Homo sapiens: one gene and its partners. The protein of the gene in region 2 interacts with the protein of the main gene of each other region in a pairwise test. Each region holds a gene or a part of one and is shown on either strand. Other genes may lie near its edges. The genes, in order: RARG, LSR and MAPKAPK5.

What was found.
Region 1: the proteins of LSR (region 2) and RARG interact in a two-hybrid assay, tested with the Homo sapiens proteins (one large-scale study listed by BioGRID and IntAct).
Region 3: the proteins of LSR (region 2) and MAPKAPK5 interact in a two-hybrid assay, tested with the Homo sapiens proteins (one large-scale study listed by BioGRID and IntAct).

Annotation. Positions count from the first base shown.
Region 1 is NC_000012.12:53,225,587-53,229,234, reverse strand, and holds part of RARG (retinoic acid receptor gamma), read left to right. Parts: intron 1-1,547; 5' UTR 1,548-1,689; coding exon 1,690-1,873; intron 1,874-3,648.
Region 2 is NC_000019.10:35,262,390-35,266,037, forward strand, and holds part of LSR (lipolysis-stimulated lipoprotein receptor isoform 2 precursor), read left to right. Parts: intron 1-156; coding exon 157-303; intron 304-3,648. UniProt on the Homo sapiens protein: Probable role in the clearance of triglyceride-rich lipoprotein from blood. Binds chylomicrons, LDL and VLDL in presence of free fatty acids and allows their subsequent uptake in the cells.
Region 3 is NC_000012.12:111,848,716-111,852,363, forward strand, and holds part of MAPKAPK5 (MAP kinase-activated protein kinase 5), read left to right. Parts: intron 1-3,648. UniProt on the Homo sapiens protein: Tumor suppressor serine/threonine-protein kinase involved in mTORC1 signaling and post-transcriptional regulation. Phosphorylates FOXO3, ERK3/MAPK6, ERK4/MAPK4, HSP27/HSPB1, p53/TP53 and RHEB.

The DNA of each region.
Region 1 (3,648 bases), on a different chromosome or scaffold from region 2:
TCTCTCTGCATTTTAGTCTCTTGGCCCTTCTCTGCCCTTCATAGCAGTCTGTTATGGCTCTGACTGGTGGAGATACCCAGGCTGGGGTGACTTTTCCTCCCTAGCCCACTAACTGCCTAGAGAGGTGAGAAGTTCTGGGGCTCCTAGGAAAGCCAAACTTTTCCTTTGTCAGGGGATGAAGATAGGAACCACCTACTTAGCACTAGGATTCCCATCTCCTCTCTCTACCTCCTTCTCCTCCCCTTCCCCTGGGCTCAGGTTTAAACTCTTAGAGGGAAGCCTACTTTTGGGGGAGGAGAGGTTGCAGGGAGAACTTCCTAGAAACAGGGAGCCCAGGGATAAGAAAGAAAAGGAGGCAGAATGCCCGGGCGTGTCGCTCACGCCTGTAATCCCAGCACTTTGAGAGGCCAAGGTGGGCGGATCATCTGAGGTTGGGAGTTCGAGACCAGCCTGACCAACCTGGAGAAACCCCATCTCTACTAAAAATATAAACATTAGCTGTCTCAACAAAACAAAACAAAAAAAGAGAGAGAGAGAGAGAAAAAAGGAGGCAGAGAAGTAAAGTCAGCTGACCAAGAAGCAGCTCCTTGGCATCATACACTTGGCACAAGTGGGGGCTCCATCAACATCCTTAGATTTGAAGCAGTGGGTACAAGAGGGCTTACAGGGTGAGGAAAAATTGGAGACAGGAAGAATTGGGAGAGGAAACTGGAAGAGGGAGTGTTGAGGAAAACAGAGAGGGAAGTGCTTACTGAAGCAGAGTATGGAGGAAAATAAGGTACAAAGAGAACTAATATGAGACATTTACATCACATTTCCTATGTGCCCTACATTATGCCAGACACTTGACATTGGTTAATTTATTTAGTCCTCACAATAACCATATGAGGTAGGCCCTATTATTAGTCCCAAGTGACGCATGAAGAAACTGAGGCACAGAGAGATTAAGTGACATGCCTGAAGTCCCACAGCTAGCAAGTGGTGGGGTACAGTCCAGGTAGTCTGGCTCTAGAGTCTGTCCCCCTAACCTTTGCCTTGTACTCCTCTCCAGAGAGCTGTAGGGCTCCCAGGTTATAACAGAGTTATGTTTGCCTTCTCCAGGATGGTAAAGAGTTTGAATCTGGGCTCCCCCACTTGCAGCCATGTGACCTTAAGCCAGTCACTTCACCTCAGTTTCCTCATATGTGAAATGAGAATCATAACTCCCAGTTCACAGGACTGATGTGAGGTTTAGGTCAAATGCTTAGCCCAGTTGTGGTGATTCATGATCACTTCCCAATCTAGGAGTTCTCTCCACCAGAAGTCCTTAGACCATCATTCACCTTGGGACCTCAGTTTAACCTTTCCTGGAGCTCCTCTGGAGAGTTTCTCAGAGCCTGCATAACCCCCTGCCGTGCCCTCTCTACCACACTGCAAGGGCCCTGAGCCAGGGCAGGATAAACTGTAGCAGCACAGAGGGAGAAGACTGCAACTGAGAGAGGGTCACAGGGCTTGGAACCTCAGAGTGGTCATTCTCTCATCTCTCCTTTCTCTCTCTTTCTCCCTAGGACTTTTGGAGGCCCAGTGGGCAGGCCAGGCAGGGCGGGTACGGAGCCTCCCAGGCTGGGGCAGTGGGCATGGGCAGGGGCTGTGGCTGAAGACCTCGCCCGCCCACTGCAGACCCCAGGGGACTCTCACACCGCAGCTGCCATGGCCACCAATAAGGAGCGACTCTTTGCGGCTGGTGCCCTGGGGCCTGGATCTGGCTACCCAGGGGCAGGTTTCCCCTTCGCCTTCCCAGGGGCACTCAGGGGGTCTCCGCCTTTCGAGATGCTGAGCCCTAGCTTCCGGGGCCTGGGCCAGCCTGACCTCCCCAAGGAGATGGCCTCTCTGTGTGAGTCTCAGGGATCTTGGGGAATGAAGGCAAATGTTAACAAGAAGGCATCAGGAGGGTGGATGGTAAAAGAGTTGGCACCCCAGTTAGGAAGGCAGGCAGGGGACAGGGGTTTGGCCTAATGGAGTAGTAGTGAATAATGGAGGGTGGTAGTGGTGGTGAGGAAGGAGTTTGGATGTGGACTCAATGGAAGTGTTTGCAAATGAGAGTTCTCCTGTCAAATAGGATAGGGAGGTAGCAGGCCTAAAACTTGGGGGGTGGGTATCTAAAACTGCCTCCTGGGTCAGTCAACTAGTAGAGGGGAATACCTTTGTGTGGGCAGCTGGGGGTGGGTCTGGTGCAGCGTGAATCTGCTGCTTGCTTGCAGTGGGGAGTTGGAGGGAGCCAAACTGGGAAGCAGAGGAGTCTGGGAGGCCAGTCACCTGGCTCTGTGATCAAGAGGTGAAATTGGGTTGGGTGCAGTGGCTAACGCCTGTAATCCCAGCACTTTGGGAGGCCGAGGTGGGTGGGTCACTTGAGGCCAGGAGTTCGAGACCAGCCTGGCCAACATGGTGAAACTCCCCCTCTGTTAAAAATGCAAAAATTAGCTGGGCGTAGTGGCGCACACTTGTAGTCCCAGCTACTTGGGAGGCTGAGGCACGAGAATTGCTTGAACACAGGAAGCAGAGGTTGCAGTGAGCCAAGATCTTGCCACTGCACCCCAGTCTGGGCGATAGAGTGAGAATCTGTCTAAAAAAAAAAAAAGAAAAAGGCTCACGCCTGTAATCCCAGCACTTTGGGAGGCCAAGGAGGGCAGATCACCTGAGGTCAGGAGTTCGAGACCAGCCTGACCAACATAGTGAAACCCCGTCTTTAAAATTACAAAAATTAGCCGGGTATGGTGGCGTGTGCCTGTAATCCCAGCTACTTGGGAGGCTGAGGCAGGAGAATCGCTTGAACCTGGGAGGCAGAGGTTGCGGTGAGCTGAGATCGTGCCACTGCACTCCAGCCTGGGTGACAGAGCAAGACTCCATCTCAAAAAGATAAAAAATAAAAAAAGAAACCCCATCATTACTAAAAATACAAAAATTAGTGGGCGTGGTGGCGCATGCATGTAATCCCAGCTACTCAGGAGGCTGAGGGAGGAGAAGCACTTGAACCCAGAAGCGAAGGTTGCAGTGAGCCAAGATCGCGCCACTGCACTCTAGCCTGGGCGACAGAGCAAGATTCTGTCTGAGAGAGAGAGAAAAAAAGGTGAAATTGCTTTGAATTACATGGAGGCTGCAAAAAGGGGAAAGAAATCCTGTGCCAGGTCCCCAAAGATGTGTGGGGTCAGGAGACTGTGCTTCTTGGTTCTGGGGAGGATGGAAATGACTGCAAAGGAGGTAGCTTTTGTACCATAAGTAATCCAGAGAGGCAGAGGGGGTGTTCCAGAAGCATCCTCTCCTCCAGCGATGTGGATCTGGGCTCCTCCTCTCCCTGCAGGTCTGGCATAGAGCCTGCATGCTGTGCAGATCCCTACTTGTTCCCCAGGCCTGCCCTCTTTGGGTTAAGCCTTTGAGTGCTGACAGCAGCCAAGGCTTGGGCCTCTCCTCTCCTCCTCCCTCTGGGACCCCTCTCCTCCCAGTTGGTAGTCATTCCTCCTGGCCAGGCCATTACAGGTGGGGGTTCCAAGCTGGTTAAGAGAAGGCTTCAACTGGGGCCAAGAGAAGGTGATTGAAGGGCGGGGGAAAGAGCAATTTCAGAGACAGAGTTGGAGAGAAAAAGACAAAAAGATAAACGCACATCCTTCATGG
Region 2 (3,648 bases):
CTGGCACAAAAAATCCAGCCAGGGCTGCAGGTTCCTTGGTGAGCTTTGCAAATCGTCCCCGACCTCAGTGCTGGCTCCGCACCATGTACCCCTGCTGTGCCGTTAGCCCTGTTCCCTCCCAGGCCTCCGGGCTCAGGGCCTGTTGTCTTTCTGCAGACTGGCTCTTCGTGGTTGTGGTATGCCTGGCTGCCTTCCTCATCTTCCTCCTCCTGGGCATCTGCTGGTGCCAGTGCTGCCCGCACACTTGCTGCTGCTACGTCAGGTGCCCCTGCTGCCCAGACAAGTGCTGCTGCCCCGAGGCCCGTAAGTGTCCCGCTCATGGCCACCCTGGTTTGGGCAACATCCTGCATCCAAGGGAAGGAGGTGGCCATCCACCTGCCCCCAGGACAGTGGCGTTGGTCTGGAGGGTGTGAATTTAGCCAGTGGGGAGAAAGTAGGCTGAGGAGGGTCTGCTGTTTAGATTGTCGTTTACTTCCTCCAACTTTTAGTTTATTTTTATTTATGTTGTTCTTTTCTTTTGTAAGTATAATCCATACACATGGTAAAAATGTCCAACAGTACAAGATACTAGTCACATGGAAGTAAAGCCCTCTAAAAAAACCAAATCTTGGCTAGGCGCAGTGATTACGCCTGTAATCCCAGCACTTTGGGAGGCCAAGACGAGTGGATCACTTGAGGTCAGGAGTTCCAGATCAGCCTGGCCAACATGGTAAAACCCAGTTCTCTACTAAAAATACAAAAATTAGCTGGGCATGGTGGTGATCGCCTGTAATCCCAGCTACTCAGGAGACTGAGGCATGAGAATCGCTTAAACCCAAGAAGTGGAGGTTGCAGTGAGCTGAGATCACGCCACTGCACTCCAGCCTGGGCGACAGAGTGAGACTCTGTCTCAAAAAAAAAAGAAAAAAAAATGTTAAGTGAAAAAGTTAAGAAACCAAACAAGGTTTACAACACTACATGATTTAAGCAAAAAAAATTTTTTTTGTTTTAGAGAAAGGGTCTCATTCTGTCATCCAGGCAGTGCAGTGCGATCATAGCTCTCTGCAGCCTCAAACTCCCGGGTTCAAGCAGTCCTCCCGCCTCAGCCTCTGGAGCAGCTGGGACTGTAGGCACACACCACCATGCCCAGCTAATTTTTTGATTTTTGTTTTTTGTAGAGACGGGGTCTCAGTATGTTGCCCAGCCTGATCTCAAACTCCTGGCCTCAGGTGATCCTCCCAAGTCAGCCTCCCCAAAGTGCTGGGATTACAGGCATGTGCCACCATGCTGGCCAATTTTTAAAAATTTTCTGTAGAGACAGGGTCTTGCTATGTTGCCCAGGCTGGTCTTGAACTCTTGACCTCAAGTGATCCTGCCTCAGGCTCCCAAAGTGATGGGATTACAGGCATGAACTACCACACCTGGCCTTAAACTTAAGCAAATTTTTTTTTTTTTTTGGAGACAGTTTCACTCTGTCGCCCAGGCTGGAGTAAAGTGGCGTGATCTCTGCTCACTGCAACCTCCGCCCCCCGGGTTTAAGCTATTCTCCTGCCTCAGCCTCCCGAGTAGCTGGGATATAGGCGCCTGCCACCACGCCTGACTAATTTTTGTATTTTTAGTAGAGACGGGGTTTTGCCATGTTGGCCAGGCTGGTCTCGAACTCCTGACCTCAGGCAGTCCGCTCCCCCGCACCCCTACCTTGGCCTCCCAAAGTGTTAGGACTACAGGTGTGAGCCACCATGCCTGGCCAAATTTAAGCAAATGTTTGAAAACACATACCCACAGGAATGCTGCACATTTTACCCAGCTACTATGTCTAGGGTCGTATCTAGCACACCAGCATGGCTACTGTGGAGAGCTGGGACTGGATGTGAGATGAGAGCTAAAGGGGAAGTAAGCAAACCAAGCAGGGGAAGGTAAGAGAAGACAGAAGACAGAGAGAGAGGGACCTAACTCTATGAGAGGAGTCAGACATGTGCAATTGAAAAAGACTTGCTCCTGTCTCTCTTCTGTGAATGTTTGTGAATATCCCAACGGGACACTTTCACAGAGGAGCTGATTGACGTGGTCACAGCCATCAGCCTTGGGACACCAGACCACAGTGTGTACACTAAGTGGCACTGATGGACACTTCAGCATCCCTCTAGCTGCTGTCCCGTTTCCCCTCCTCGGGGACCACAGCTGTTGCCAGTCCTTGGTTTCCTTCAGGAGGGTGTCTGGGTAGACCAGCCTGTGTGCACACAGTCCAAGATACATGAACAGTGAAGTGCCAGGCAATCCTTGCAAGCATGGGCAGGTGGAGAGCTGAGGCCTGCTTGACACCTTCCTGCTCAGAAGCCCAGTGAGCAGTTTCCCTCCCTAGGGCTCAGTGTCATCCCCTATAAAATGGGGCTTATGGCAGAGCTCACCACACTGGGTGCATCTGGGGATTTGGCGAGCTCATGTGCACACCATTGAGCATGGGGCCCAACCTATATAAAATATTCTACGTCTGTCAGCTGCTGGGCACTGCCACTATCAGCCTCAGTAGTGACTGAGGGACAGGGCACCAGTCAGAGCCCTGGTGCACACAGAGTGACCCCAGAGAAGCAGCCTTCCCTCTCTGAGTCCTGTTTCCTTCTGTTAGGTCCTGACTTCATGGGTTGTTGTTAGCATTAAGGAAGTCGCTGGCTAATTTTATAGTCATTGAAGTCAGTGGTGTGCAACCTGGTTCCTCAAAGGATCACTTCCCTGAAAAAATTCCACTGCTCCCTGGAGGCTTATGCAGGCCATCCCATCCCCTCCCTCTTGTTGTGTTCAGCTGACAGCTTTTTGCTCAGTGAGTAAGTGTTAGGTCCATTTCACAGATGGGCTGCAACCAAGTTTGCAGTGAACCCACTAAGACCAGAGCTAGGGCCAGGACTAAATGCTGGTCCCAATGCCACATTCCCCTGTCCCCACACCACATTTCCTCCATCCGGAGACCCTGTTACCCCAACCCAGGGCCCCATTAACTCCCTGGCAGAGGCCCTGTTACATCTGCTGCTGCCACAGCCTCCGCCCACCCTTCAGGAGGCAGCAGGTCCCACTGCTGATGATAAAGTTGCAGGCTGCCTGAGCTAATGAAGGGGCTTCCTCTAGGCTGTGCACTTAGTCTTCTGCTTCCAAACCAAATCAGAGGTGAGGCACCCTCTCTGGGCCCATCTCTCTCCTCCATTTTCCTGTTGGGGTCCCAGGGAGGAAGCCACTTGCCTAGGGCCCAGGAATTTTGCAAGCCTCTTGCCCTAGGGAGGAAGGAAGGGAGGAGGATCTTACCTTGAACTGTCAAGCCTAGAGCCTGGTGGGGCAGGCAGAAATGGGTGCAGTCCATGAGTTAGAAACACTAGAGGAGACACTTTGCTGCTTGGCCGGGGCAGGCAAGTTAATTCCCGAGGCTCCTGCCACTGCATCTCAATCTGGAAGGTGACCAGGTGGGCAGGACCCACGTCTCCCAGATGACTCATTTTTTCTAGAACAGGGGCTTGGCTGCCAAAGAGGATACTTGATTTCGGCTTGTGGGGACAGTGGTGGACCCAGCATCTGGGCTTTATATAAAGGGCAGCTTTGTTGCCCTGTAAACACACAGACCATGGGTGGCCACTTCTTCCAGTAAGTTAGCTGGGGAGTTGGAAGTTTAGGTAAAACCTTTTG
Region 3 (3,648 bases), on a different chromosome or scaffold from region 2:
TTGCCCGTTTTAGAATTGCTTTTTTTTGTTTTGAGATGGAGTCTCGCTTTGTCACTCAGGCTGGAATGCAGTGGTACGACCTTGGCTCACTGCAACCTCTTCCTCCGGGGTTCAAGCGATTCTCCTGCCTCAGCCTCCTAAGTAGCTGGGATTACAGGCATGCGCCACCATGCCCAGCTAATTTTTTGTATTTGTATTTTTATTTTTTTATTTATTTTTTGTATTTTTAGTAGAGATGAGGTCTTCACCATGTTGACCAGGTGGTCTCGTACTTCTGACCTCAAGTGATCCGCCTGCCTTGGCCTCCCAAAGTGCTGGGATTACAGATGTGAACCACCATGCCCAGCCTAAAATTGATTTCTTTGCCTTATTGAGTTATAGGATTATTTATTTATTTTTTTATTAATTTTTTTAGAGATGGGGTCTCACAATGTTGCCCAGGCTGGTCTTGAACTCCTGGGCTCAAGCGATCTGCCTGCCTCAGCCTCCTGAAGTGCTAGGATTACTGCACCTGGCCAAGAGTTCTTTTTTTTTTCTTTCTTTTTTTTTTTTCTGAGACAAAGTCTTGCTGCTCTTGTTGCCTAGGCTGGAGTGCAATGGCACGATCTTGGCTCACTGCAACCTCCACCTCCCGGGTTCAAGTGATTCTCCTGCCTCAGCCTCCCAAGTAGCTGGGATTATGGGCATCCACCACCATGCCTAGCTAATTTTTGTATTTTTAGTAGAGACTAAAAATTTTAGTTTTGCCATGTTGGCCAGGCTTGTCTTAAACTCCTGACCTTGTGATCTGCCTGCCTCGGCCTCCCAAAGTGCTGGGATTGCAGGCGTCAGCCACCGCACCTGGCCTAGAGTTCTTTATAAACTGAATAAAAGTCATTTATCAGCTATGTGATTGGCAAATATTTTCTCCCAGTCTGTGGCTTATCTTTTCATTTTATAATGGTGTCTTTTGAAGAGCAAAAGGTTTTAAATTTTATGAAGTCCAGTTTAGCACATTTTTTTCTTTTTCTTTTATTTTGTTAGGACAGTCTCACTCCATCACCCAGGCTGGAGTGTAGTGATGCGATCACAGTTCGCTGCAGCCATGTCCTTCTAGGCTTAAGTGATTCTCCCTCCTCAGCCTCCTGAGTAGCTGGGACCACAGGTGTCTACCACCATGTTTGGCTAATTAAAATAACTTTTTTTTTTGTAGAGACACGGGTCCCACTGTGTAGCCCAGGCTGGTCTCCAGCTCTTGAGCTCAAGCAGTCGTCACACTTTGGCCTTCCAAAGTGCTAGAATTATAGGCATGAACCACCACGACTGGTTGTGAAATATCCTTTTTTTTTTCATAGATGGAGACTTGCTCTGTTGACCAGGCTGGAGTGTAGTGGCGTGATCTTGGCTCACTGCAACCTCTGCCTCCCAGGTTCAAGCAGTTCTCCTGCCTTAGCCTCCCAAGTAGCTGGGATTACAGGTGGGTGCCACCATGCCCGCCTAATTTTTGTCTTTTTAATAGAGACGGGGTTTCACCATGTTGGCCAGGCTGGTCTCGAACTCCTGACCTTGTGATCTGCCTGCATCGGCCTCCCAAAGTGCTGGGATTACAGGCATGAGCAACTGTGCCTGGCCAAAATACCTTTTTATTTCATATTGAAGATGCAGCTTTTACGTGGGTGCGAGAGTGCTATAAGAAAGGCATAACTATAGACTCTAATATTTTTCGAGAAAAAGTCATTGTGTCTTAAAAGGAAGGTAAAGGATCTAAAGTTGGAGAATTTAATGCCAGCAAAGGATGGTTTGATAACTGTAGAGAGGTTTGGCTTAAAAAAATGTCAGGGTAACAGGAGAAGCAGCTTCTGCTGACCAAGAGGCGGCAAACAAGTTCCCAGATGCCATTAAGAAAATCATTGAGGAGAAAGGATATCTGCTTGAATGGGTTTTTAATGCAGACAAAAATGCCCTGTTCTGGGGAAAACAATGCCACAAAGGACATTTATGAGTAAGGAAGAGCAGTGAGTGCCAGGATTTAAGGCAGGAAGAGCTAGGTTAACTGCCGTTTTGTGTAAACACAGTCAAGTTTATGATCAGGACTACCCTGGTCTATAAAGCTGCTAACCTCTGAGCCTTCAAGGGAGAAGATAAAACACCAGCTGCCAGTCTGTTTTTACCAAAAGAAAGCCTGGATAATGAGAACCCATTTTCTTTTTTTTTTTTTTTTTTGAGAGGAGTCTCGCTCTGTGGCCCAGGCTGGAGTGCAGTGGCACGATCGCGGCTCACTGCAAGCTCTGCCTCCTGGGTTCACACCATTCTCCTGCCTCAGCCTCCCGAGTAGCTGGGATTATAGTTGCCTGCCACCACGCCCAGCTAATTTTTGTATTTTAGTAGAGACAGGGTTTCAGCATGTTGGCCAGGCTGGTCTTGAACTCCTAACCTCAAGTGATCCGCCTGCCTCGGCCTCCCAAAGTGCTGGGATTACAGGCATGAGCCACCGTGCCCGGCCAGGACTGCCTTTTAAAGTTTTTTTGACACAATGCCCCTGGCCACTGAGAATCCCATGAGTTCAACACTAGGCTTTGAAGTGGTCTACTTGTCCACAAACAGTGTCTCTAATCCAGCCTGTAGATCAGGAGGTCTCAAGGACTTTTTGAGAAAGAGTCTGGCTCTGTTGTCCAGGTTGGAGTGCAGTGGGGTGATCTCAGCTCACTTCAACCTCTGCCTCCCAGGTTCAAGCAATTCTCATGCCTCAGCCTCTCGAGAAGCTGGAATTACAGGCATGCTCCACAATGCCTGGCTAATTTTTGTATTTTTAGGAGAGATGAGGTTTCACCATTTTGCCCAGGTTGGTCTCGAACTCCTGGCCTCAAGTGATCTGCCTGCCTCAGCCTCCCAAAGTGCTGGGATTACAGGCTTCAGCTGCCGCACCTGGTCCAGGACTTTCAAGACTCATTACATGGGATACTCTGGAAAAGATTGTTAACACCAAGGAAGAGAATCCTGATAGAATGTAGTGAAAGTCTAGAGGGATTACACCACTGAAGATGCCATTGTTATGGAAAAAGCTGTGGAAGCCATCAGGCCTGAAACAATAAATTCCTGGTGGAGAAAACTCTGTCCAGATGTGCGTGACTTCATAGGATTTATGACAGAGCTGGTTAAGGAAATCATGAAAGAGATTGTGGATATGGCAAAAAAGGTGAAGGGTGAAGAGTTTTAAGGTACAGATCTTGGAGAAATTCAAGAGCTAATAGACACCACACCTGAGGAATTAATAGAAGATGACTTGATGGAGATGAGTGCTTCTGTGCCAGACAGTAAGGAATAAGATGTACAAGAAACAGGGGCAGGAAAAAATTGACATTAGACAATTTGCCAGAAGGGTTCCAATTATTCAAGACTTCCTTTAGCTTTGTTTATGGAATATGGAATGGAACCTTCTGTGATACTGGCACTGAAGTGAAAGCAAATGGTGGAAGAAGGATTAGTATTGTATAGAAATGTTTTTAGAGAAATGGAAAAGCAAAAAAGTCAGACAGAAATGAGGATGTATTTTTGTAATGTTACACCAGATGTGCCTGCCTCTCCTGCCTTCCTTTCCATGCCCTTCACCTCTTCTACCTCTGCTGCCCCAAGACAGCAAGACCAACCAACTCCTTTTCTTTCTTTCCC